Homo sapiens: one gene and its partners. The protein of the gene in region 4 purifies or fractionates together with the protein of the main gene of each other region. This does not show direct contact. Each region holds a gene or a part of one and is shown on either strand. Other genes may lie near its edges.

Region 1 (3,500 bases), on a different chromosome or scaffold from region 4:
GCTGCCTCCCAAATGAAAGTATTTAAGCAGATGCTGAATAACAACTAAGCATGTTGTAGAAGGGGTGTATATATAAGGAGAGGATGGAAGAGATGATCTGTGAATTAACCTGCAACTGAAATTATGTGATTTTTATGAAATAAATGATACAGATCTGTCTTTTTTGGCTATGCCAGAAAAAAATAACACTGAAATAGTATTATAGTAAACAATTATTTCTGTATTTATCAAGCAATACAGAACAATACCTTTATGAACAATACCTCATTGAAAAATGAAAGGTAGATTTCATTGCTATTCTTATTTGCAGACAAGTAAAACAGCAGAATAACTTGTCCAAAGCCACAAAGCCAGAAAGTGTCAGATGAGATTCTAAACCCTAGTATGTACAATTTGAGTAAGCTCTCAAAAACACTAGCACCCAGTGCCTCATGGACAAAACCATATCCCCACTTGTAACTTCCTACCAAACCTGCTCCATTTCAAACTGATTCAACAATAACAGGTACACTAAGAGGAAGAAGGTGACATTTTTCAAATATTCTGTGTATGTAAGAGATAGATAATGGTTTTAAGAAATTTTAAAACTCATTAAAGAGACGAACCTAAAACAAAACAGACAAAACAAAAAGTTCTAAACAGAAAATAAGACAGTATTCAATGTCATTGACCAAAACCTCTTTATCAACAATGAGGAAAATTACTTACAATTTGTGTTCTCTTATTATCATCTATAATGATGTGGAGTAGTCTTTCAACAAGAAAAGAAACCAGGGATATTGGGATTGTGGGTAAAATAAGAATCTCCTGTAAAACAGCCAGCAGTTTTTTTCTGCAGTCAAAAAGAACTAATTTAAATATTATTATGACAAAACATGTTTTATCTCTAACATTCACCTACTCTGCAAACTTAATTACATTTGCCTCAGTTCTTTCACTTAGGTTTATCACTATAATAGGTACAAAAATCTGTATGTACAGACTTTAGGTCAAATATTCTTATTCCACACAAAAAAAAATTTTTATAAAACACCCTATGATTTTTAATAAATCAACATGATAAAATGACAAAATACCAGAAATGATTAAACCTTTTAGAAAATGCTACTAGCCTTAATAAATCTAAACAGAAACTTTTAACCAAAAACTGCAATTTCATTGATTTATTCTGAGGAAATTGAACTAGAAATATAAATGTATGTGTATATATGGAAATATGTAGAAGGGAAAAGAAAACTTTTTATACCACTTTAGAGAGCTAGGGTAAATATGTTTAGTTATATTGTAAAAGGACTATATTTCAATATAAGAAATTAGAAGGGCAAATTAGAATGAGTGTTAACATTTAGACATACCTTCCTCCTTCTTCACTGGTATCCAAAGACTTAATAATTAGAATCAATTGTTGACCTATGAATTCTTTTGTCATCAAATTTCCAATATAGGAAAAATCACCTCTGTGTTCTTCATTAACAACTGGAATGCTCTGGATGTAACTAAAACAAGCAGAATTAATAAAGTAGAATCTTTTAAGAAACATCAAACAAGAGTTGATTCCCACCATTAGGTCAGAAAAGGGCCATTTTCAGGTCATATTCGTCTAAATACATATCTATGCCATGTAATTTGGTCTACAAACTCAATTCTATGCCACTGTCATTAACTTTTGCAAACAAACTTATTGATGAATCAAAAGAATTTGAAAATGTATTTTCAATAATGACTCAAATTTTCTATGGGAAATTTTCAAAAGGTACATATTTATGTCTAACTGATAACTAATTATTTCAATGTCACTAGCATTCTCCCAATTACAGATGGTCCCCAATTACAGGTGGCCCAACTTACAATTTTTCAACTTTAGGATGAGTTTATCTGAGAATTAAACTCATTTGACTTATGACATAGCCCCACTTTAAGTCAAGAAGCATCTATCAAGTTCTGAATCCCTTACCCAAAAATCCAATTAGTCATAAAGATCTAATCTTCAGCCGGGCACAGTGGCTCACACCTGTAATCCCAACACTTTGGGAGGCCGAGGCAGGTGCACCACAAGGTCAGGAGTTCGAGACCAGCCTGGCCAAGATGGTGAAAACCTGTCTCTACTAAAAGTACAAAAAAATTAGCCAGGCATGGTGGCTACTGTAATCCCAGCTACTCAGGAGGCTGAGGCAGAAGAATTGCTTGAATCCAGGAGGCAGGGGTTGCAGTGAGCCGAGATCGCACCACTGCACTCTAGCCTGGGTGACAGAGAAAAACTCCATCTCAAAAAAAAAAAAAAAAAAAAAGATTTAATCTTCATCATGCCTAATTATCATTCTTTTATTTTTAAAAATTGTAACAATAGTTACACAAGTAATCCATGAATACAATTATCTTTTTTGAAAAAAATCAGAAAAATAGAAACAATTTCACAAATTTTTATTATTCTTTCTTAGAAACCCTACTAATCTCTGTATACACCACCACCATCAGCTACCTTTTATTTTAACTTTTTATTCTTACTACAGACATCACCACCCAAACTAAAGCCCTTTATAATCCTCACCAAGAAGGCTGTATATTCAGTAGCCTCTGCTTTTTGTGTGGAATAAAAAAAGCTACTTAAAAGCAGAACTAAGAATTGAAGCTTAGACAGCGAAGTGCCTTTAAGATGGAAGTAACATGAAAAACAATCCTGATCAAAAATGTCATTTAAAAAATGTCAAAAATGTCGCCGGGCACAGTGGCTCACACCTGTAATCCCAACCACTTCGGGGGGTTGAGGCGGGAGGATCACTTGACATCAGGAGTTCAAGAAGAGCCTAACCAACATGGTAAAACCCCATCTCTACTAAAAATATAAAAACCAGCCAAATGTGGTGGCAGGCACCTATAATCCCAGCTACTCAGGAGGCTGAGGCAGGAGAATTGCTTGAACCTGGGAGGCAGAGGCTGCAGTAAGCCAAGATCACGCTACTGCACTCCAGCCTGGGCAACAAAGCAAGACTACGTCTCTTAAAAAAAAAAAAAAAAAAAAAAGGCGGGGGTGACAAAAACCAAGTTACAGAAATTGTGGTATAATGTATAATGAGTATACTCTCATGTATTACAAAGTGATGACCAAGAGTAAATAAAAGCTCATAAATTTCTGGCCACAAGATTAGGACTTTTAAGACATCAGCCACCCTTTGGGTTCTAGTAGGAAACTAAGGAAAACTACACTACCGATAACTATCAAAATCAACCAATCAGTAGAGTTACTCTTTTCTGACAGGCTAAAAGAAAACCTTCATTTATACTCATCTTTGTATCTCTCCCCACTTCTCCAGCCCAGCTTTAGCAAAATGCACAGCATCTTGACTGAGTTTTTTTTTTTAAGTAAATTCAAACAGTTGTTTAATTAATAGATTAAAAATCCTCAACTGCATAAATACAACTTAAAACTGACCCACCAATTTTAGTTACCATGAAATCCTAACCATTTATAAAGACATTTATTATAATGAAGAGACCACTCA
Region 2 (3,500 bases), on a different chromosome or scaffold from region 4:
ATTTATTTGTTTATTTTTGAGATGGGGTTTTGCTCTTGTCACCCAGGCTGGAATGCGATGGTACGATCTTGGCTCACGCAACCTCTACCTCCTGGGTTCAAGTGATTCTCCTGCCTCAGCCTCCTGAGTAGCTGGGATGACAGGGGCCACACACCTGGCTAATTTTTGTACTTTTAGTAGAGATGGGATTTCATTAGCTGGTCTCGAACTCCTGACCTCAGGTGATCCACCCGGCTCAGCCTCCCAAAGTGCTGGGATCACAGGCATGAGCCACCACGCCCAGCCAGTAAAAATTTATTTACAAAAACAGGTGGTGGGCTGTACTTGGCCACGGGCCATAGTCTGCCAACCCCTGCTTTAAATGACTCTAGCTCCCAGCCTTCAAGTCTTCCGGCTGAGGGCCCAGACTTTCTGGAATAAAGACAAGCTGTTCCTGCTGTGCCCCTGTCTGAATTCCTGCCTCACAAAAACTGTGACAGATAATACATAATTATTGTTGTTTTAAGCCACTAAGTTTTGGGGTAATTTGACATGCAGAATAACCAGCTCATACATACACAAACCCTGTGTGTATGCATTAGTTCACTCATTCCTTCATTTGTCTGTGTGTTCATTTCACAGGCATTCAACAAGAACCCATCGTGCGCTGAATACAAGGGATGGGGGATGACAAGACACAGTTCCTGGCACCACAGAGCTCAGAGACTGTCACTGAGGTAATCCCAGCTCACTGTGAGAGGCGTCAAAAGGAAGAAGGAGGGAGGTTCCTGGAGCCAAGAAGAGACACCTAACCCTGTGGGGGTGTGGGCAAGAGGAGAGGTCTGAGCTGTGTCTGCTGGGTGTTGGGAGGAGTAACATTTCAGGTAGAAGGAAGAGGTGGACAGCCCCATGAGAGTGGCTAGGAGAAGGGGCAGGTACGTGGTATGGTAAACCTGGGGTCGGCCTCCAGGAAGGCTCAGGTGCAGGCACTTCATCTCCCCACAGATGTCTGGTGAGGCATCTCCCACTGCTAACATGCCCCTCTTTCATGTGGAGGCGTCAGAGCGTGCGCCAGACACTGGCCACCCTGTGGCAGAGACGTGGGCTCTGGGAGGTCCTCAGCCCATATTCAGAGGCCTTGACTGAAGACAAGGCAGTGGCTAAGTGGCTTTGCCACCTAAGAGGGTCCTGGCCTGGGGCACCTGTCCAGCTGCAGGATATGGGGGCTCCCCAGTCATTCCAACCAAAGTGGATGAGCACAGGGAGAAGGGCAGAAAGGAAGAAAAGGAGCAGGAACAAGTGCATGCGGCCCAGGAACTTCAGTGGCGACCCTGAGACCTGCAGAACAGACCCACAGGCCTGCTAGGTCTGGGCTGGGGGCACACAGGCCATAGGAGTGCCCTACCTGGGGTCTGGTAGTTGAGCCTCCGCATCTCCACAGGGTCAGAGGAGTGGGCCAGCAAGGAGTCCTTCAGTCCGATCGACTGCTCATCCTTAGAGGACGGAGAGTGGGTCCTTTTCCTAGAGAGACAGAAGGGAGGCTGGTGAGAACCTGAGGTCCAGGCTGAGACAGTGACACATGGCATGGCTGGCTGCCAAGGAGCCCCCATGTCCACGGCTCTGTCCTCCTACTGCCCCACCTCTTCCCAGGATCTCTGAGCGCGGAGGAGCCAGGGCCAGAACAGCCTTGACATGAGAGAACACAGGGCAGGGAGGGGGTAGGGAGAGCAGGAGTGTGGCGTGAGCAGAGGGGCAGTGCAGCAGGGAGGAAGGGGTTGCAGGGGCGAGCAGCTCCTTTGGATAGAAGGCAGGTCACTGCAGGACAGTGACTGCTATCTCCAAGGCCACCCAGCTGAGTAGCAGGAACCACCGGGAACAAACATGCAAATGACACATAAAATACACAAACAGCACAGGAGACAGGGCCCCAGCTTTTTGGCCCTCAGAGTATCAGGGTAAATGCCCAGGGCAGCAGGGGAGGGACGGGAAAGGCGTCACCCTAGCTGGGCAGAGTCCTCTCTCACTGGCCTCAGTTTTCCCATCTACAAGGACAGGGTCAGAGACAGACCATAGGATTCAGCTGCCAACAAATAGCCAGAGGCTACTTGTGGTCTGCAGACGCATGTGCTTCGGAAAGAAGAATTTGAGTGAGTGTGCTCAGGTGGGTACAAGGACATGCCTCTCTGCTGTTCCACACAGTGACTGCTCTTTGCTCTGTGCGAGACTGTCTCTCGCAGCACTTAGGCAACTTCTCAGAGAACTGGGAGCCGGGTGATGGTTCTGGTGAGCTCTGTACGCTCAGGGAAAGCAATGCAGTCTGTATTATGTATGTGCCCCAGAGAAGAAGCATCCTCTGCAGAGTTGAACTGGCAAGAGTGAGACAGAAACTGCCTCCTCACACCAATGAGGACTCAGTCCTGAACCAGGGAGCCTGCTGAGCTGACTGGACAGTTTGCTGCTTAAAGCCATAGGCCAGGGGACTTCTGGTCAAAGCGTCATCCCTCCCTGCTGGCCCAAGGATTAGAAGTAGAGGGGGAGGTGTGTGAAGAGAGAAGGAACAACTCCTACCTTTCTTGTTTACTAGGTCCCGAAAGACAAGCAAGGACAGAAGAAAGGAACGGTCACAGTTTCCACCAAGCACTCAGCCCTCTAATGACATGGGGACCCTGCAGGCCCCTTATATGGCACCCACATGACATTCACAGGGAGGGGGTCTACCTCTCTGGACAGACCCAGAATGCAGGTGGAAGTGGGAAGGATGAGTGCATCTGTGGGACACTCCTTAGGGACCCGCCCACAGGTCCATCCACCCTGGGAGGAAGGAGTGGACTCTTTAGGAAGGAACAGTGGGTCCAGGGTAGGCACACAGGATACAGGCTCTCCTGCATGGTGCAGAGATGTGCTCAGACACACAGACTAGCATATCTTCATCTGCCAGGTGCTCACTGACATGCCTGTGGGCTCAGCCCAGTGCTGGGGGCTGAAGGCTTGGCACACAGGCCCAGCTGCGTTTGCAGTGGAGCATCACAGGGGACAGCTGTGCAAGGAAGGGGTAGGGGCCAGGCAAGGCCTTGCAGGCACCAGAGCATGGACTTGAGTCCTGAACGATGAGATTGCTGTTGCCAAGTGGGCAGGGGGAGGGAGATCCGCAGAGGGCACACCCTGTGTGGGCCTGAACACTGAATGAGTTCAGTGTCGCAATGTCAGGAGTGTGGCAGGGGTCAGATTAGCCAGGTGTTTGGCTGTCAGGCTAAAGAGGGTGGGCTTTACGTGGGCAGCCATCAAAAGGTTTTAAACTGAGAGTGACAAAGTTAAATCTTTGGAAATCCCTTTCAGGCTGGAAGGTGCACGGATAGGAAGGGAGACTCCTAGGGCAGGTGGTGGCCACTGCCGATAGAGAACTGAGTGGGAAAGACACACTGAGGCTGAGGCCGCTGCGGATGGCACGGGCACAGCAGGCCATCAGTCATGTCTGTTAGTGAGCATCCATGGCCTGTGGGCCTCCAGCTCGACCTCTCTAG
Region 3 (3,500 bases), on a different chromosome or scaffold from region 4:
TCTTCAGCTTCAATGAGACGCCCATGGGACTTAACTTTGTCAGTAGTGTTCAGTTGTAAAAAAATTTCCAAAAATGCTATGAAATGCTAGAATAGATCATTAAAGGTGAGGTGAAGGGACAGAAGAAAAAAACAAATATTTAAAATTATAGATTGAGATCAGTATGAGAATGTTGGGAGTCCTTAAATAATTTAACATAAGGCTATGAGTGAGTTTGTACATATTACTGTTTGTAATATGTAACTGTTGGGACAAGGGAGAGGGCCAGGGGATAGGTGATAATCAGGAAGAGAAACATAGGGAGCTTCAGTTACTGATAATGTTACAATTAAAGAATTTTTTTTTCTTTGACACATCTGCAGAGGATCATAAAAGTAACATTATAATTCTTAGGGTGGGAGGTAAGAGATCAGAGAACCATGAAGAACCACCTAAGCTGGACTTTGAATTAAGACAGGAAAGTCAAGGTTGGCAGGAGCCAATGATAAAGTAAGAGGAAGCATGAGATAAAAATGGAAAAGTAGATTAGGATGACATTGTAGCAGCAATGTTAAAAAGACAGTGAAATGGGAATTGGAAACCCTAAAATCTCAACCACGGTTCTGCCACTCAATTTGCAATTAACCGTGAACATATCCTAAAGCCAAATCTGAATAAATATTCTACAAAATAATATAAAAAGTAACTTACTCAATATCTTTTCGTACTGATCCCATAAGATTCTCCCTTTCCCGTATTGCCATAAAGTTTGCTTTGGTTTTATGGAATTCATGTGTATAATCCTGTAATAAATCAACATCCAGTCTCAACAGAAGCTAATTATGGATTTTCATCTCACTGAACCAGTTATGTATCGTCATCACACTGTAAATTTGTCAAGAAAACTGCTATTTAAGAAATCAAATTAACCAAAGGTAAAAATAACTTTAAAATTACTTTCCTGAAGAGTGACCAACTTCTTTCAAGTGAAAATAATTCAGTGCTAGGGAAACAGTGCCATTAAATCACTATCCTTTGTACCTCCTAGTACTCTGTCTTACGAGGCAGAATTAAGAAGAAAAAAATTCTGAGATAAAATAACTTCAAATAGTCTAGGAGAAAACTTGAGAGGCTCTTTTTACTTAGTAGTATACTTAATAGAGCTTATTTTCAAATTTCATCATTTTGGAGCTCTCACAAAAAATTTAATTCCTAAACAAAAAAGAACAGAATCAAGAGAATTATAAGGAACAAAATAATCTTTAAACATTTTCTACTATTTTTGTACCACTGTTAAAAGTACTTCATTACTTTTCATAAATTCAGAGATGTAGATAAAGAAGAAAATCAAAATCTTGTCTCCCAGAGTCCCTGTTGACCTTTTAAAAAACAAAAGTAACACATAAACATGGAGGAGAATATTAAAAGAGCACCAAAAGAAATAAAGGTGAAACAAAGGAAAACAAAACATTCTGCTCCATACCTCATAACTGTTACCATCATTTTGTATTTTCTTCCAGGAAATTATTATTTTCTTTTTTTTTGGAGACAAGAGTCTTGCTCTGTCGCTCAGGCTGGAGTATAGTGGTGCCATCTCAGCTCACTGCAAACACCACTTCCTGGGTTCAAGCGATTCTAGTGCCTTGGCCTCCCTAGTACTGGGACTATAGGAGCGTGCCACTACATCCAGCTAATTTTTGTATTTTTAATAGAGATGGAGTTTCACCATGTTGGCCAGGCTGGTCTTGAACTCCTGACCTCAACAGTTCCACCCACACTGGCCTCCCAAAATGCTGGGATTACAGGCGTGAGCCACTGCACCTGGCCAGGAAATATGTTTTTACATATACAAGCTTATCTATTATTTCTTTCACTTTGCCAAGTAAGTCATAATATACATTCTGATGTACACCTTGCTTTTTGTACTTCATAAAGTATCAAGCAATCTTTCCATATTAGGAAAAAGAAATCTACATCATTCTTTTTAATAGCTGCATAGAATATTATCTTATGACTATCACAATTTAATAAATTCCCTACTGATAAACACATTAGTTGTTTTCATTTTGTTTGCTATTAAAAATACTGCAAGACTAGGCAGGGTGGCTCATGCCTGTAATCCCAGCACTTTGGGAGGCTGAGGTGGGCGGATCACTAGAGGTCAGGAGTTCGAGACCAGCTTGGCCAACATGGCGAAACCCCGTCTCTACTAAAAACACAAAACTTAGCCGGTGTGGTGGAACGCACCTGTAGTCCCAGCTACTTTGCTCAGGAGTTTGAGGCAGGAGAATCACTTGAACTTGGGAGGCAGAGGTTACAGTGAGTTGAGATCATACCACAGCACTCCAGCCTAGGCAACAGAGCGAGACTCTGTTTCAAAAAAAAAAAAAAAAAATACTGCCAATAAACATTCTTACATATATTTTTTAAACTGAACTCTTTTATTTTAAAAAAAACTATATTTAGGCTGGGCGCAGTGGCTCACGCCTGTAATCCCAACACTTTGGGAGGCCAAGGCAGGCGGATCATGAGGTCAGGAGATGGAGACCATCCTGGCTAACACGGTGAAACCCCATCTCTACTAAAAATACAAAAAAATAGCCGGGCATGGTGGCGAGCGCCTGGAGTCCCAGCTACTCGGGAGGCTGAGGCAGGAGAATGGTGTGAACCCGGGAGGCAGAGGTTGCAGTGAGCCAAGACCGCGCCACTGCACTCCAGCCTGGGTGACAGAGTGAGACTCTGTCTCAAAAAAAAAAAAAAAAAAGTATATTTAAAGAGTAAATGTCTATTAAGTTCAACAGAGCTTAAAAAAAAAAAAAAGGAGTAAATGACTAGCAATAGAATAATTGGATCAGGGCTGGGTACGGTGGCTCATGCCTGTAATCCCAGCACTTTGGGAGGCCGAGGTGGGTGGATCATGACATCAGGAGTTCAAGACCAGCTTGATCAATATGATGAAACCCCATCTCTACTAAAAATACAAAAATTAGCTGGGCGTGGTGGCGCACACCTGTAGTTCCTGCTACTCGGGAGGCCGAGGCAGAAGAATCGCTTGAACCCAGGACGTGGAGGCTGCAGTGAGCCGAGATCGCACCATTGCACTCCAATACTCCAGCCTGGACAACAGAGCGAGACTCCGTCTCAAGAAAAAAAAAAAAGAATAACTGGATCAAAGAATCTCACATTCATTTAAATTCTGGTAGTGCTAAACTGCCTTCTATAAACATTACATCAATTTATGTTCCCACCAGCAATATATGAGTACCCTTTTTAAATTTTTACTCTTGCCAATAATGGGTTATAAATGTTTCAACATTTGCTAATCTGACATGTGAAAAATCACCTCTTTTAGATTTCTGTATTTTTATTTGGAAATACTGCTGAAAATGTTTTTATAGTTTTGGCCATTCATTTTTTTGTAAGCAATTTTATATCCTTTGTCCATTTTCCTACTGTCTTTTTCTTATTTCTATTATATCTCTGTGTAGTAAGCAAATTAGCCATTCGTTATGGTTTCCAGT
Region 4 (3,500 bases):
TCTGAACCAGAGCGGTTGCCAACTGCCAGTGTCCGGAGATGCCTGGTGGCCACTCTGTGGTTAGTGGCAGTAGGTGGCTGCTACATCTAGTTCCAGTGAACCTCCTGTTGAGAGAGTGCAGCTGGTGGTACAAGCCTTCCCTTACACAGCAGCTGTCCCCCCAGGGAATATTTGGCAGTGTCGGGAGACTTCCGGTTGCCACACTGGAAGGTGCTACTGGCATCTCGTGGTCAGAGGCCAGGAAAGCTGCTAAACTTCCTACAGGGCACGGGAAGAGCCCCCACAGAAAAGATTATTCAGGCCAAAGTGTCAATAGTGCTCAGGTTGAGAAACCTTGCCTCACGCAATGAAAACGGTTCTCACATTGCTTTGCTTCAGAATGTGCAAACGGAAACCCCAAGGCTGTTCAGAACAGGCCATTCTGAGTCTGCTAGTCCAGCAAGCCTCGCCGCAGGCAGAGTGGGGAGGATTTGGCCAGCGGGCCCTCCTGGGACAGGGAAGCTGCGAGGATGAGTTCGGGGACGCCCCAGGCCCAGGGGAGCGAGGTCTGGCAGGATTCAAGGATCCTGGTGGAAGAGCAGGGGACAATTGAGAGGGCCGGGCAGGAGAGGTGAGGCCCGCTGCGCGCCGGGCTGGCGGAGGAGCTGTGCTTTATCCCGCAGCGAGAAGGAGCTCGTGAAGGCTCTGAGGCTGGGAGTGGCTGGATGAAAGTCGTGCTTCTCGGCCATTCGTTAGTAATCAGGATGGACTGCAGAGGAAGAGGCTTAAGAAGCAGGGATGCGGCCGGACACCGTGGCTCATGCCTGTAATCCCAGCACTTTGGGAGGCCGAGGCAGGCGGATCATCTGCGGTCAAGAGTTCAAGATCAGCCTGGCCAATGTGGTGAAATCCTGTCTCTACTGAAAATACAAAAATTAGCCAGGTGTGGTGGCGCGTGCCTGTAATCCCAGCTACTCAGGAGGCTGAGGCAGGAGAATCGCTTGAACCCGGGAGGCAGAGGTTGCAGTGAGCCGAGATCTCACCATTGCACTCCAGCCTGGGTGACAGAACAAGACTCCGTCTCAACAACAGCAAAAAATAGGCAGGGATGTAAATGAGAGGTCGTTGCCCCGGCCTGCCATGCGGGAAAAGAGTCTGAGGCAGGGCAGTGGCAGGGAAAGAAGAGGAAGGGTTGGGAAACAGGCAGTTCAAAGAAAGAGCAGGCAATCTAGGAAAGACCTAGGCGTGTAAGTGCTGGTTCTGGGCAATGGTGACGGCACAGCCAGAAATAGGAGAAGCAGGAAGAAGTGCCTCTGGGAGGCTGTGGCGAAACTCCTTCCTCGCTTCATTTGTAAACTTTGTTGTTCCTTAATTTTTCTTTTTTTTTTTTTTTTTGAGACAGGGTCTCACTGTGTCACTCAGGCTGGAGTGCAGTGGTGCGATCTCGGCTTACCCCAACCCTCCACCTGCTGGGCTCAGGTGATCCTCCCACCTCAGCCTCCCTAGTAGCTGGGGACCACAGGCACATGCCACCAAGCCCAGCTAATTTTTGTATTTTTTTGTAGAGGTGGAGTTTCTCCATGTTGCCCAGGCTGGTCTCGAACTTAAAATTAAATGCTAAGAAAACTATTTCAGGCCAGTCACGGTGGCCCATGCTGCAACCCCAGGAGGTCGAGGTTGCAGTGAGCTATGATTGCACCACCAGCCTCAGCCTGGGCAACAGACCGAAACCCTGTCTCAATTTAAAAAAAAGAGAGAGAGAAAAAAAAGCTATTATTCTAGAAGAATGATTGAATCAATTTTTTTTTTTTAATTTTAAAATCACGGCTCACGGCAGCTCGAGCTCTGGGCTCAAGTGATCCTCCCACCTCATCCTCTCGAGTAGCTGGGACTGCAGGCACACACCACCATGCCTGGGCTAACTTTCAATTTTTGTAGAGACAGAGTCTGACTTCGTTGCCCAGGCTGATCTCAAACGCTCCAGCTCAAGCGATCCTCCTGCCTCGGCCTCCTGAAGGGCTGGGATTACAGGCGTGAATCACTGCGCCCGGCCTTAAAGCTACTTTTTATTGAACAAATACTACACGCCAGGTGCTTTGCTAAGAAGCTTAAGGAGAGGATAAGTAACCTGTCTATGGCCATAGAGCTATTAGTAAGTGGCATTTTACTTTGTTTTTGTTTGTTTGTTTGTTTGGTTTGGTTTTTTGTTTTTTTTTTTTAAGAGACAGAGTCTCGCTCTGTCCCCCAGGCTGGAGTGCAGTGGTGTGATCTCAGCTCACTACAAGCTCCGCCTCCCAGGTTCACGCCATTCTCCTGCCTCAGCCTCCCGAGTAGCTGGGACTACAGGCGCCCGCCACCACACCCGGCTAATTTTTTGTATATTTTTTAGTAGAGACGGGGTTTCACCGTGTTAGTCAGGATGGTCTCGATCTCCTGACCTCGTGATCCGCCCGCCTCGGCCTCCCAATGTGCTGGGATGACAGGCGTGAGCCCCCCCGCCCGGCCTGGCATTTTGCTTTGAACTCAAGTGTCTGACTCCAGTGCTCTACACTGTGCTCCTAAGCTACTGGAAGCAAATATGCAAGCATGGAAATAATTTTTGGTTAGAAAGCTGGGATTATGGGTGATTACTCTTTTTTCAAATTCTTATTTAATGTTCCTGTTTTCATTATTTTAAAAAGTAGTCTTTGCTATTCCAGAGACAGTGGGAAATTTAATAGTTGCTATAAGTATGATTATATTCAAAATGGTCAACTAGACAAGCATTTCCCAAAGTCTCAGACTCTTAATCCCAAGGAGTCCTTCATGGAAACAGAGTTCTGTAGGAAGTTAAGTTTTGTGACCAGGCACGGTGGCTCACACCTGTAATCCCAGCACTTTGGGAGGCCGAGGCGGGTGGATCACTTGAGGTCAGGAGTTTGAGACCAGCCTGCCCAACATGGTGAAACCCTATCTCTACTTAAAATACAAAAATTAGCTGGGCATGGTGGTGGGTACCTGTAATCCCAGCTACCTGGGAGGCGGAGGCAGAAGAATTGCTTGGATCCACGAGGCGGAGCTTGCAGTAAGCCGAGATCGCGCCACTGCACCCCAGCCTGGCGACAGAGTAAGGCTCCATCTCAAAAAAAAAAAAAAAGTTAAGTTTTGTAAAAGGTGCGTTCTAGACCCTCCTTTTGGAAATTTACAATGTAAATTAGCAGATTAAAAATGTCAGTATGCTCTGCAGGAATCATCACATTTAACCTTAATGCATTTCCAAAAATTCTTCAGCTGTGGAATACTTTTGTCCCATAGTGTCTATTTAGATGCCCTTTTGGGGAAATTGAGTTTAACCAGCAAAGAAGAGGCCATCTCCTAAGAAGATAGTTTGATGGACAGACCCAGTATCGGGCTATGGATGCTAAGGAACTTTTCCTTTCCTAATTAGAGTACCAAAGGCAACAGTTAGAAGACACTGCAAAACCATTTGTGTTGAACAGTCAGAATCTGCCCCACCCTCACCTTCATAAATGGAACGGCCC
Region 5 (3,500 bases), on a different chromosome or scaffold from region 4:
ACAGGGCTAACGGCACAGCAGGGGTACATGGTGCGGAGCCAGCACTGAGGTCGGGGACGATTTGCAAAGCTCACCAAGGAACCTGCAGCCCTGGCTGGATTTTTTGTGCCAGAGGCTGGGCACAGCACACTCCCCATTCTACCATCCCGGCCATTCCCCAGTTACGGCCCTCCCCCAGGTGCAAAAAACACAAGGCAGAAAACGAGGCAGCCTGCACAGAGGGAGACAGACTGCAGCCCCCAGACCAAAGAGAGAGCCAGCTGCCCAGACGCCACACCCTCAAGAGCACCGCAGGTGCCAGTCACAGAGCCCTGGCCTGCACCCCAGGCTCTCCTCAGCCCAGCCTAGCCTAGGCCCAGCGCCAGACCACTAGATGCCTCAGAGCCACAGTCAGGCCAGGTTAGTGAGGGGTCCACAGTGAGCAGGGTTTAGTGGGGAAGGGGATACTAACTAGAGTCAGAAGCAGTAGGTGATGTATGGGAGCTCCCGAGAAGCCCAACTCAGGATCCACCCCCCGTACCTTCTATGGGCCCCGCCTGAAAACCAGGTAAGAGCTCAGCCACCCCTGAGGTCCTCCCTGGAGGGACAAAAGAGAAACAGATTATGCTGGCCAGAGCCAGCCCAGGCTGTGCCACCCCCGAAAGCCCAGCTCCAGGCTGGCCAAGTGCAAGGTGTGCCCTGAAGCGGGAAGGGGCTGGGGGCTGAAGCCCTAGTGCATGGCTCCTACCCTCCACCCGCCCACATGTGGGTGCTTATAGGTAAGAAACTCCCATTGCATAATCCACCTGTGTTATGCCACGAGGGCTCCAATACAAATCCCAGGGGGTTCTGAGGGCTCTACCTCAGCTTGGGCACCCTAAGTTTCCCTCATTCATAGGTCTTAGCACCCCAAAGGGCTCCAACCACGGTGATAGGGATGTCCTGTTCCAGCAGGCACAGGGACCTAGGGCCCACGAAATAGGATCTCAGCTCTGTCGCCCAGTCTGGAGTGCAGGGGTGTGATCATGGCTCACTGCAGCTTCAACCTCGTGGGCTCAGGCGATCCTCCCACCTCAGCCTCTGGGGTAAGTAGCTAGGGCTACAGGCATGTGTCACCACACCTGGCTGAAATGGTTTAATTTTACTTTACAAATCTGAACACAAATTAACACAATATACAGGAATAAACTCTTTGTGACAACATAATCACACATTTTTTTTAAAACAGGAAGGGACCCATGAAGGCAAAAATACCCACATATGAAAGTCATATGCAGTCCTGGTTCTGGGACCCACAAGGTCTCCATCTCTACTCATGCACTGTCACATTCACGCATCTCAGAGCCGGTTCTTGTCTTCCCTCGAGTGCCCCTGGAGCTCTGAGCCCCACCAGTGTTGTGTCTGAGGGGCCTCCACAGGCCCAGCTCTGCACCCACGAAGCCCTCCCCAGAGCTCATGCACTTGGCACTATAGGCCCTCGCAACAGGACAGAGGCATGTCAGTCACAGCTCTCAAAGCGTGGTCCTGTCCACAAGGCCAAAAGAAGAAATTTTAGAATAACACTAAGATGTTATTTGCCTTTTTCACTTGTTCTCCCATGAATGTCCAGTAGAGTTTCCCAGGCTCCCTGATGCCATCATCGCCCTGATGCCTAATGGACTATATGCGTGTGTGTGTGTGTGTGTGTGTTTGTGTTTCTTGAGCCAGGGTCTCTGTCACTCATGCTAGAGTGCAGTAGCATAGTCACGGCTCACTGCAGCCTTGACCTCCTGGGTGCAAGCGATACTCCTGCCTCAGCCTCCCAAGAAGCTGGGCTCACAGGTGCATGCCACCATGCCTGGTTAATTTTAAAATTTTTTGTAGAGTCAGGGTCTTGCCATGTTGCCCAGTCTTCCTTGTGTATCTTGGGCTTGAAAAATCTCCCCATTTTAAGGCCGGGCAGTGGCTCATGCCTGTAATCCCAGCACTTTGGGAGGCCCAGGTGGGTGGATCACGAGGTCAGGAGATCGAGACCATCCTGGCTAACATGGTGAAACCCAGTCTCTACTAAAAATACAAAAAAAATTAGCCGGGTGTGGTGGCGGGTGCCTGTAGTCCCAGCTACCTGGGAGGCTGAGGCAGGAGAATGGCGTGAACCCAGGAGGTGAAGCTTGCAGTGAGCCGAGATCGAGCCACTGCACTCCAGCCTGGGCGACAGAACGAGACTCCATCTCAAAAAAAAAAAAAAAAAAGGAAAATCTCCCCATTTTAATTCCTAATATGTTAAGCAACAGATAGACATAAAACCCACAGAAACAAACAAAAGCTCTTGGAGACCCTCGATAATGTTTTAGAGTGTAAATAGACCTGGAGACTAATTTTGGGAACTGCTGATGCAAATGGTGCATTTTACCGAAGAACAGGCAGAGGTTCCTGGGTCACTGGTGCACGTGTTCCATCCCCCACACATGAACTCTGTCTTGCAGCCCAAGTACCCCCCAGTCACGTGCTCATTCACACATGTGAAGATGGCAGTGTACAGCCCAGCGGCATCACTCATGCAGAGCACATGTCATACAAGACTCCATGTGTTGGCTTACAGCAGGGCACCTGGCCGATGGCAACATCCCCCTAACACAAGGAGGCCTCCCAGCCACACGGACACCCCGCCCTGCCCCTGGGTGTCTGGAATCGGCTTCGTTTCAGCTGCACTCAAACTTACACAGTGTGTGTGCCATGCAGCGCCATCCCAGCAGGGCACACGGCAAAACCGCTGTGCTTTGGCGAGGGACTCGGGTGAGATGAGGCCTTGGGGATGTAGCAAGAGGTGGGTCGATTTTGCACACCATCAACTGTCCTCATTCACTGCCCATGGACTCTGACCACGTCTGGATTTTTTTTTTTTTTGGACAGAGTCTCACTCTGTCGCCCAGGCTGGAGTGCAGTGGCTTGATCTTGGCTTACTGCATCCTCTGCCTCCCAGGTTCAAGCAATCCTCATGCCTCAGCCTTCTGAGTAACTGGGATTACAGGCATGTGCACCACCACGCCTGGCTTTTATATTTTTTATAGAGACGGGATTTTGCCACGTTGGCCAGGCTAGTCTCGAACTCCTGGCCTCAAGTGATCCACCCGCCTCGGCCTCCCAAAGTGCTGGGATTACAGGCATGAACTACCGCACCCGGACCCCAAGTCTGGATTTTTTTTAAAAATGAGACTTTGAAAAGGCAGAGTCTCCAATTGTCTCCACTCTTCTCTTAGTTTGGCTTGGGTGATTGGAGGCACTGTGGGCCAGTGGTCCCTGCCTGGGGTGCAGGGCACAGGGGAGCCTAAGTGACTGGCAGAGCCTGGGGGAGAGCAGAGCAGGCGACAGAGCCCAGAGGGTAAGCTGGAGGGCAGAGGGCGGACACAGGGGAGGGCAGACAGAACAGAAGCGGACAAAAGGAAGGGCCATGCCTCCCCCTTCCCAGGCCCACTCACCAAGGACGATGAGCTCTGCGTAGGCCTCATTGTTCCCCTGGAGGTCCTGGGCTGAGACCACGG
Region 6 (3,500 bases), on a different chromosome or scaffold from region 4:
CGATGGTCGCTGTCTCTTTGGAGCTGTTGGGTACACCTCCCAGATGGGGCAGCCAGGCAGAGGCACTCCTCACTTCCCAGACGGGGCGGCCGGGCAGAGGCGCTCCTCACTTCCCAGACGGGGCGGCCGGGCAGAGGCGCTCCTCACCTCCCAGACGGGGCGGCCGGGCAGAGGCGCTCCCCACTTCCCAGATGGGGCGGCCGGGCAGAGGCACTCCCCACTTCCCAGACGGGGCGGCCGGGCAGAGGTGCTCCACACTTCCCAGACGGGGTGGCCGGGCAGAGGCGCTCCACACTTCCCAGACGGGGTGGCCGGGCAGAGGTGCTCCCCACTTCCCAGATGGGGCGGCCGGGCAGAGGCGTTCCCCACTTCCCAGACGACGGGCAGCCGGGCAGAGGCGCTCCTCATTTCCCAGATGGGGCGGCCGGGCAGAGGCGCTTCTCACCTCCCAGACGGGGCGGCCGGGCAGAGGCGCTCCTCACCTCCCAGACGGGGCGGCCGGGCAGAGGCGCTCCTCACCTCCCAGACGGGGCGGCCGGGCAGAGGCGCTCCTCACTTCCCAGACGATGGGCGGCCGGGCAGAGGCACTCCTCACCTCCCAGACAGGGCAGCCGGGCAGAGACGCTCCTCACTTCCCAGACGGGGCGGCCAGGCAGAGACTCTCCTCACCTCCCAGATGGGGCAGCTGGGCAGAGGTGGCTCCTCACATCCCAGACAGGGCAGCTGGGCAGAGGCGCTCCTCACTTCCTAGACGGGGCGGCCGGGCAGAGGCGCTCCTCACCTCCCAGACGAAGGGCGGCCGGGCAGAGGCGCTCCTCACATCCCAGACGATGGGCGGCCGGGCAGAGACGCTCCTCACCTCCCAGACGGGGCGGCCGGGCAGAGGCGCTCCCCACTTCCCAGACGGGGCAGCCGGGCAGAGGCGCTCCCCATTTCCCAGACGGGGCGGCTGGGCAGAGATGCTCCTCACTTCCCAGACGGGGCAGCTGCCAGGCAGAGGCGCTCCTCACCTCTCAGACGGGGCGGCCTGGCAGAGGCACTCCTCAGTTCCCAGACGGGGCGGCCAGGCAGAGGCGCTCCTCACCTCCTTCTTTGTCCCTTTTTATAGTTTTTTTTTCTTGAAATCTATTTTGTCTATTACAGGTATAGCTACTCCTGCTCTTTTTTGGTTTTCATTGGCATGAAATATCTTTTTCCATCCCTTTATTTTTAGTCTGTGTGTCTTTATAGGTGAAGTATGTTTCTTGTAGGTAACAGATCATTGAATTTTGTGTTTCTTAGCTATTCAGCCACTCTATGTCTTTTGATTGGAGAATTCAGTTTGTTTACATTTAGTGTTATTAATAATAAGTAAGATCTTACTCCTGCCATTTTGTTATTTGTTTTCTGGTTATTTTGTGGTCTTCTCTTCCTTCTTTCCTTCCTTTCTATTTTCCTTTTAGTGAAGGTGATTTTCTCTGGTGGTTTGTTTTAATTTCTTGCTTTTTATTTTTTGTGTATTCATTGTATGTTTTTTGATTTGAGATTATCATGAGGCTTGCAAATAACTTATAGCTCGTTATTTTAAACTGATGACAATTTGGCACCGATTGCATAAACAAACATGCAATCAAAAAGAAGTCTAATAAATACTCTGTACTTTGTCCCCCCAACTTTTTAACTTTCTGTTATTTCTATTTATATCTTATGGTACCAAGTATGTCTTGAAAAGTTGTAGTTATTTTTGATCGGTTCATCTTTTAGTCTTTTACTTAAGATATCAATAGGTTACATACCACAATTACAGTGTTATAAAATTATGTGGTTTTTTGTATGCTTAGTATGACCAGTGAGGTACCTTCAGATCATTTTTTAATTGCCCATTAACACCTTTTTTCCTTCAAATTGAAGGATTCCCCTTAGCATTTCTTGTAGAACAGGTCTGATGTTGATGAAATCTCTCAGCTTTTGTTTGTCTGGGAAAGTCTTTATTTCTTCTTTAAGCTTGAAGGATGTTTTCACTGGATATACTATTCTAGGGTAAAAGTTTTTTTTCCCTCAGTAGTTTATGTCATACCACTCTCTTTTGGCCTGTAATGTTTCCACTGAAAAGTCTGCTGTCAGACATATTGGAGCTCCATGGTATGTTATTTATTTTTTCTTTTGCTGCTTTTAGGATCCTTTCTTTATCCTTGACCTTTGGAAGTTTGGTTATTAAATGCCTTGAATGGTAGTCTTCTTTGGGTTAAATCTGGTTGATGTATAACTTTCTTGTACTTGAATATTGATATCTTTGTCTAGAATTCGGATGTTCTCTGTTTCATCCCTTTGAATAAACGTTCTGTTCCTATCTCTCTCTGCCTCCTTCTTAAGGCCAATAACTGTTAGATTTGCCCTTTTGAAACTATTATTTAGATCTTATAGGCATGCTTCATTGTTTTTCATTCTTTTTTCTTTTGTCTCTGTTGACAGTGTATTTTCAAATAGCCTGTCTTTAAGCTTACCAATTCTTTCTTCTGCTTGATGACTTCTATTAAGAGACTCAGTATGTCAGCTGCATTTTTCAACCCCAGAATTTCTGCTTGATTCCTTTTAATTGTTTCAACCTCTTTGTTAACTTTATCTGATAGGATTCTGAATTCCTTCTTTGTGTTATCTTGAACTTCTTTGCATTTCCTCAAAATAGCTCTTTTGAATTCCCTCTCTGAAAGGTCACATATCTATGTTTCTTCAGGATTTGGTCCCTGGTGCCTTATTTAGTTTGTTTTTCAAGGCCATGTTTTCCTGGATGGTCTTGATGCTTGTGGGTGTTCATTGGTGTCTGGGCATTGAAGGTATTTATCGTAGTCTTCACAATCTGAACTCTTTTGTACCTGTCTTAGAAAGGCTTTCCAGATATTTGAAGGGAGTTGGCTGTTGTGATCCAGTTTTGGTCATTGCAGCCATATCTACATTAGGGGGCACCCCAAGCCCGATAATGCTGTGGTTCTTACAGACTTGCAGAGGTACTACCTTTGTGGTCTTAGATAAGGTCTAGAAGAATTCTCTGGATTACCAAGCAGAGACTCTTGTTCTCTTCCCTTACTTTGTCCCAAACAAACGAGTCTCTGATTCTGTGCTCCAAGCCTCTTGTAGTTGGGGGAGTGGTGACACAAGCACTTTTGTGGCTACCACCACTGGAACTACACTAGACCAGACCTGAAACCAGCATAGCACTGGATCTCACCCAAGGCCCAGTGTAACCCCTACCTGGCTACCTCCTGTGTTGGCTCAAAGTTCTAGGGCTCTATAATGAGCAGGTGGCAAAGCCAGTCAGGCTTTTATCCATCCCTTCAGGACAGCAAGCAAGTTCCCCTGGGCCCCAGGCAGGTCCAGAGATGCCATCTGGGAGCCAGCATCTGGAGTTGGAAACCTTAGAACCCTATCTGGTCCTCTATTCTCCTGCAGCTGAGCTGGCATCCAAACCATAAGGCAAAGTGCTTCCCACTTTTCACTCCTCTTTTCATAGGCAAAAGAGTCTC
Region 7 (3,500 bases), on a different chromosome or scaffold from region 4:
TTATTCTCTGTAATTTCTATATGCTTAAAATATTTGTGAATAATTACTATTCTCCAAGAATGTTAAGAATCTTTTATTAAACCTTTTTTTATTCTTATTAATTTCAGCATCGGTATCAAGTCCCATTGTTGCAGGTGGTTTGAGAAACATACATGATAATAAAGTTTCTGGTCCGTTGTCTGGCAATTCAGCTAATCATCATGCTGATAATCCTAGACATGGTTCAAGTGAGGACTACCTACACATGGTGCACAGGCTAAGTAGTGACGTATGTAATATATTATCATTAAGGTGATAAAATAGTTCTAATATTTGTCATATAACCTAGTATTTCCATTTCAAAATTTGAATGATACCTACCGTATATCATTATACTGGGTACTGAGTACAACATGGCTCCTGCACATACAGAGCTTAGTCTAGAGCAGGATTGGTCAAGTGTGACCAGTAGCCTGAACCACAAAGTGAGAATGGTTTTTACATTTATAAAGAGTTATTTAAAAAAAAAAAAATGTGATAGAGACTGTATGTGGCCCACAGAGCCTAAAATATTTATTCTCTGTTCCTTTATAATGAAAAGTTGGCTGACCCCTGACCTTGAGGTTTAGGTTCTTAATGAAATATTTCAGTTTTAGGTTAATACTGCTCACACTAAAATTTTTTTTTTTTTAGATAATGAGCCTGTATTTATTAGTACTTGACTCTTTTTCCCTCTGATACTTGTACAAAGTTTTGTGTCTGAAATTTAATATTGCCTTGATGTTATTAAAATATTCCACATTCTGGAAATTTGCCTTGTTATTGATTTGATTGTAATTTATGTAAGCTGCATGTGTCTAAGGATAACACAGATGACAATAAACTCTGCCCTCAAGTCATTTACCACCTGGTAGAGTATTCATAGCTCCTTTTGTAGAAAAAAGCAAACAAAAATGGAGCATACTAGTAATACAAATTTTCTTATTCATTGCCATGCTTAGGCTGTTGATTCTTTTGGATACAATTTCAATTCTTCTAAGATATACCAAGAAGAAAACAGGAAAGTGCAGAAGAATTATGCTTTTGAATTCCAACACTTTACCTGTCAGTAATTTATGTCTCTTATTGGTTCTCTTTTAAGATTTCTATAAAGCCTCTCCTGTCATTCAAAAGATAAATTGTATACTCTATTTTTAGGATGGAGATTCTTCAACAATGAGGAATGCTGCATCTTTTCCCTTGAGATCTCCACAGCCAGTATGCTCCCCTGCTGGAAGTGAAGGAACTCCTAAAGGTACTACTGTAACTAAAATTTCCTTCTGTATATTTTATATTTGAAGTTGAATAAAGAACTCAGACTTCCTAAAGCAGATATTAAAAAGTTATTCTGTATTTTTTTTTCATTGTAGAAAAAAAAATAAACCTGTACAAGCAGGTCTGGATCATGGGATTTAAATCTGTCCCTATTCATTGATTCATTTATCTTCCACTTACCCAGTAATCTGTTGATAGTATTCTCGGATACATCCAGTATCCATTCTCTTTAATAAATCCAGTGGTCTTTTCAAACCACAACGTTCTTCTCTTAAACATTTGAAAATTTTGATCAGCTTTCCTCTTTCCTCCAAAAAGACTTATTTCATATGAGCCCATCTGTTTTTCTCCCACTTCTTTCATTGATACTTTTTTTCTTCATTAGCTCCTCTCCTTATTCTTATTCTTCTCAAGATTTCTATTATTAGACCTTTTATCACTCATTGTACTTTTTTCCCTGGCCGTTTTATTAAGTTTCATTAACAGCATTGATTATTTTCATGCATAAGACTCCTAAATCAATCTTTGGCTCCAGTCTTGTCTCCCAAGTTCTAATTCTTCATTTCCAGACAAAACTTCCTTCATACCTAGCGGATATTTCCAATTCATCTTCAAAATGGTTTTCACTGTTCTTTCTACCATCCCATCTGTCTTAATGCTATTCCAGTCCTGAATCATTGTAACTTAAAAATTTTAAGTTATCATAAAGCCTCTTTTCAACTATTTAGTCATTTATCAAATCTAACCTGTTCTGTTAATTTTTAAATCTCTCACGTCTACTTTTATCTCTGCCTTTTAAAATTCTTTTATTCCAGATCTAAGTTAAATGGGTGATCTTCCATGGGCCCTCCCCTAATCTCCTCAAGCTATTAGTTTATATTTTTTGTAAGAACTTTTACTACTTTATGCACACGAATTTCAGTTTATCTTTGAATTTTCAAAGAACCTTGCATGGTCTTCTATCTGTAACAGATTCACAAAATTGTGAATTTAAGTCCAGGTTTGAGCCAGTTTTTAAAATACTTAAAATTGTAGTCAAATAGCTTTAATTATCAGTTTGTTGGAAGAGAAAACTGTCTTCTACTTTTTAAAATTAGCTTATAATTAATTTTAACATAGCTGGTAATATATTCTCTCAAGTAATGAGAATTTCTAATTATAGCCATCTGAAACATAAAGATATTTTACCTCGTATCTGCTTCATATGGTAAAGATCTTTTTTTCACTGATTGTGTTCGTACTATTTATCAAGGACATTTTTCTTTTTTTTTTTCAAAAATTTTTTAAAAATTTTATTTTATTTTACTTTAAGTTCTGGGATACATGTGCAGAATGTGCAGGTTTGTTACATAGGTATACATGTGCCATAGTGATTTGCTGCACCTATCAACCCGTCATCTAGGTTTTTTTTCTTTCTTTCTTTTGAGACAGAGTCTCGCACTGTCACCCAGGCTGGAGTGCAGTGGCATGATCTCGGCTCACTGCAATCTCCACCTCCCGGGTTCAAACGATTCTCCTGCCTCAGCCTCCTGAGTAGCTGGGATTACAGGCACATGCCACCACGCCCGGGTGATTTTTTTTGTATTTTTAGTAGAGACAGGGTTTCACCATGTTGGTCAGGCTGGTCTCGAACTCCTGACCTCGTGATCTGCCCGCCTCGGCCTCCCAAAGTGCTGGGATTACAGGCGTGAGCCACCACACCAGGCTTGTCGTCTAGGTTTTAAGCCCCGCCTGCATTATGTATTTGTCCTAATGCTCTCCCACTTCTTGCCCCCTACCCTCCAACAGGCCCTGGTGTGTGATATTCCCCTCCCTGGGTCCATGTGTTTTCATTGTTCAGCTCCCACTTAAGAGTGAGAACCTGCGGTGTTTGGTTTTCTATCAAGGACATTTTTCATAGAGTGAAAGTTGAGCTGTTATGAGCCATTTCAATTCTGTAAATTGTATGAATTTTCAGGGATAAAAACCCGGCTTCTGAAAGAGAGAAAAACTTCCAGAGTAACTATTTGTAGGTTAGATACATATCCCACAAGTGTTGTCAAGGTGAGAAGTTATTTAGATTGCCGGGGAAAGAGAACAGGGAGATAGGTGATTGATCTAGATAACTAGCTTTTTTTCTTCTGACTCTTGAGATTAGATAGATAAATAGTAGATGAACTTTAGATAGAAATGGAAAACTTTAAAACAAATAACCTCACTAATATATT

What was found.
Region 1: the proteins of SLC51A (region 4) and NCAPG purify together in Homo sapiens (affinity purification with mass spectrometry; one large-scale study listed by BioGRID and IntAct). This does not show direct contact.
Region 2: the proteins of SLC51A (region 4) and PTPRF purify together in Homo sapiens (affinity purification with mass spectrometry; one large-scale study listed by BioGRID and IntAct). This does not show direct contact.
Region 3: the proteins of SLC51A (region 4) and GOSR1 purify together in Homo sapiens (affinity purification with mass spectrometry; one large-scale study listed by BioGRID and IntAct). This does not show direct contact.
Region 5: the proteins of SLC51A (region 4) and LSR purify together in Homo sapiens (affinity purification with mass spectrometry; one large-scale study listed by BioGRID and IntAct). This does not show direct contact.
Region 6: the proteins of SLC51A (region 4) and FUT8 purify together in Homo sapiens (affinity purification with mass spectrometry; one large-scale study listed by BioGRID and IntAct). This does not show direct contact.
Region 7: the proteins of SLC51A (region 4) and NIPBL purify together in Homo sapiens (affinity purification with mass spectrometry; one large-scale study listed by BioGRID and IntAct). This does not show direct contact.

Annotation. Positions count from the first base shown.
Region 1 is NC_000004.12:17,820,979-17,824,478, reverse strand, and holds part of NCAPG (condensin complex subunit 3), read right to left. Parts: intron 1,497-3,500; coding exon 1,356-1,496; intron 833-1,355; coding exon 709-832; intron 1-708. UniProt on the Homo sapiens protein: Regulatory subunit of the condensin complex, a complex required for conversion of interphase chromatin into mitotic-like condense chromosomes.
Region 2 is NC_000001.11:43,607,383-43,610,882, reverse strand, and holds part of PTPRF (receptor-type tyrosine-protein phosphatase F isoform 1 precursor), read right to left. Parts: intron 2,560-3,500; coding exon of another isoform or gene 2,548-2,559; intron 1,501-2,547; coding exon 1,385-1,500; intron 1-1,384. UniProt on the Homo sapiens protein: Possible cell adhesion receptor. It possesses an intrinsic protein tyrosine phosphatase activity (PTPase) and dephosphorylates EPHA2 regulating its activity.
Region 3 is NC_000017.11:30,487,408-30,490,907, reverse strand, and holds part of GOSR1 (Golgi SNAP receptor complex member 1), read right to left. Parts: intron 783-3,500; coding exon 691-782; intron 1-690. UniProt on the Homo sapiens protein: Involved in transport from the ER to the Golgi apparatus as well as in intra-Golgi transport. It belongs to a super-family of proteins called t-SNAREs or soluble NSF (N-ethylmaleimide-sensitive factor) attachment protein receptor.
Region 4 is NC_000003.12:196,219,534-196,223,033, forward strand, and holds part of SLC51A (organic solute transporter subunit alpha), read left to right. Parts: exon of another isoform or gene 1-858; intron 859-3,500. UniProt on the Homo sapiens protein: Essential component of the Ost-alpha/Ost-beta complex, a heterodimer that acts as the intestinal basolateral transporter responsible for bile acid export from enterocytes into portal blood. Efficiently transports the major species of bile acids (taurocholate).
Region 5 is NC_000019.10:35,259,002-35,262,501, reverse strand, and holds part of LSR (lipolysis-stimulated lipoprotein receptor isoform 2 precursor), read right to left. Parts: coding exon 3,438-3,500; intron 3,432-3,437; exon of another isoform or gene 2,681-3,431; intron 1,504-2,680; exon of another isoform or gene 1,100-1,503; intron 578-1,099; coding exon 521-577; intron 1-520. UniProt on the Homo sapiens protein: Probable role in the clearance of triglyceride-rich lipoprotein from blood. Binds chylomicrons, LDL and VLDL in presence of free fatty acids and allows their subsequent uptake in the cells.
Region 6 is NC_000014.9:65,716,730-65,720,229, forward strand, and holds part of FUT8 (alpha-(1,6)-fucosyltransferase), read left to right. Parts: intron 1-3,500. UniProt on the Homo sapiens protein: Catalyzes the addition of fucose in alpha 1-6 linkage to the first GlcNAc residue, next to the peptide chains in N-glycans.
Region 7 is NC_000005.10:36,970,769-36,974,268, forward strand, and holds part of NIPBL (nipped-B-like protein), read left to right. Parts: intron 1-107; coding exon 108-268; exon of another isoform or gene 269-972; coding exon of another isoform or gene 973-1,083; intron 1,084-1,176; coding exon 1,177-1,273; intron 1,274-3,500. UniProt on the Homo sapiens protein: Plays an important role in the loading of the cohesin complex on to DNA. Forms a heterodimeric complex (also known as cohesin loading complex) with MAU2/SCC4 which mediates the loading of the cohesin complex onto chromatin.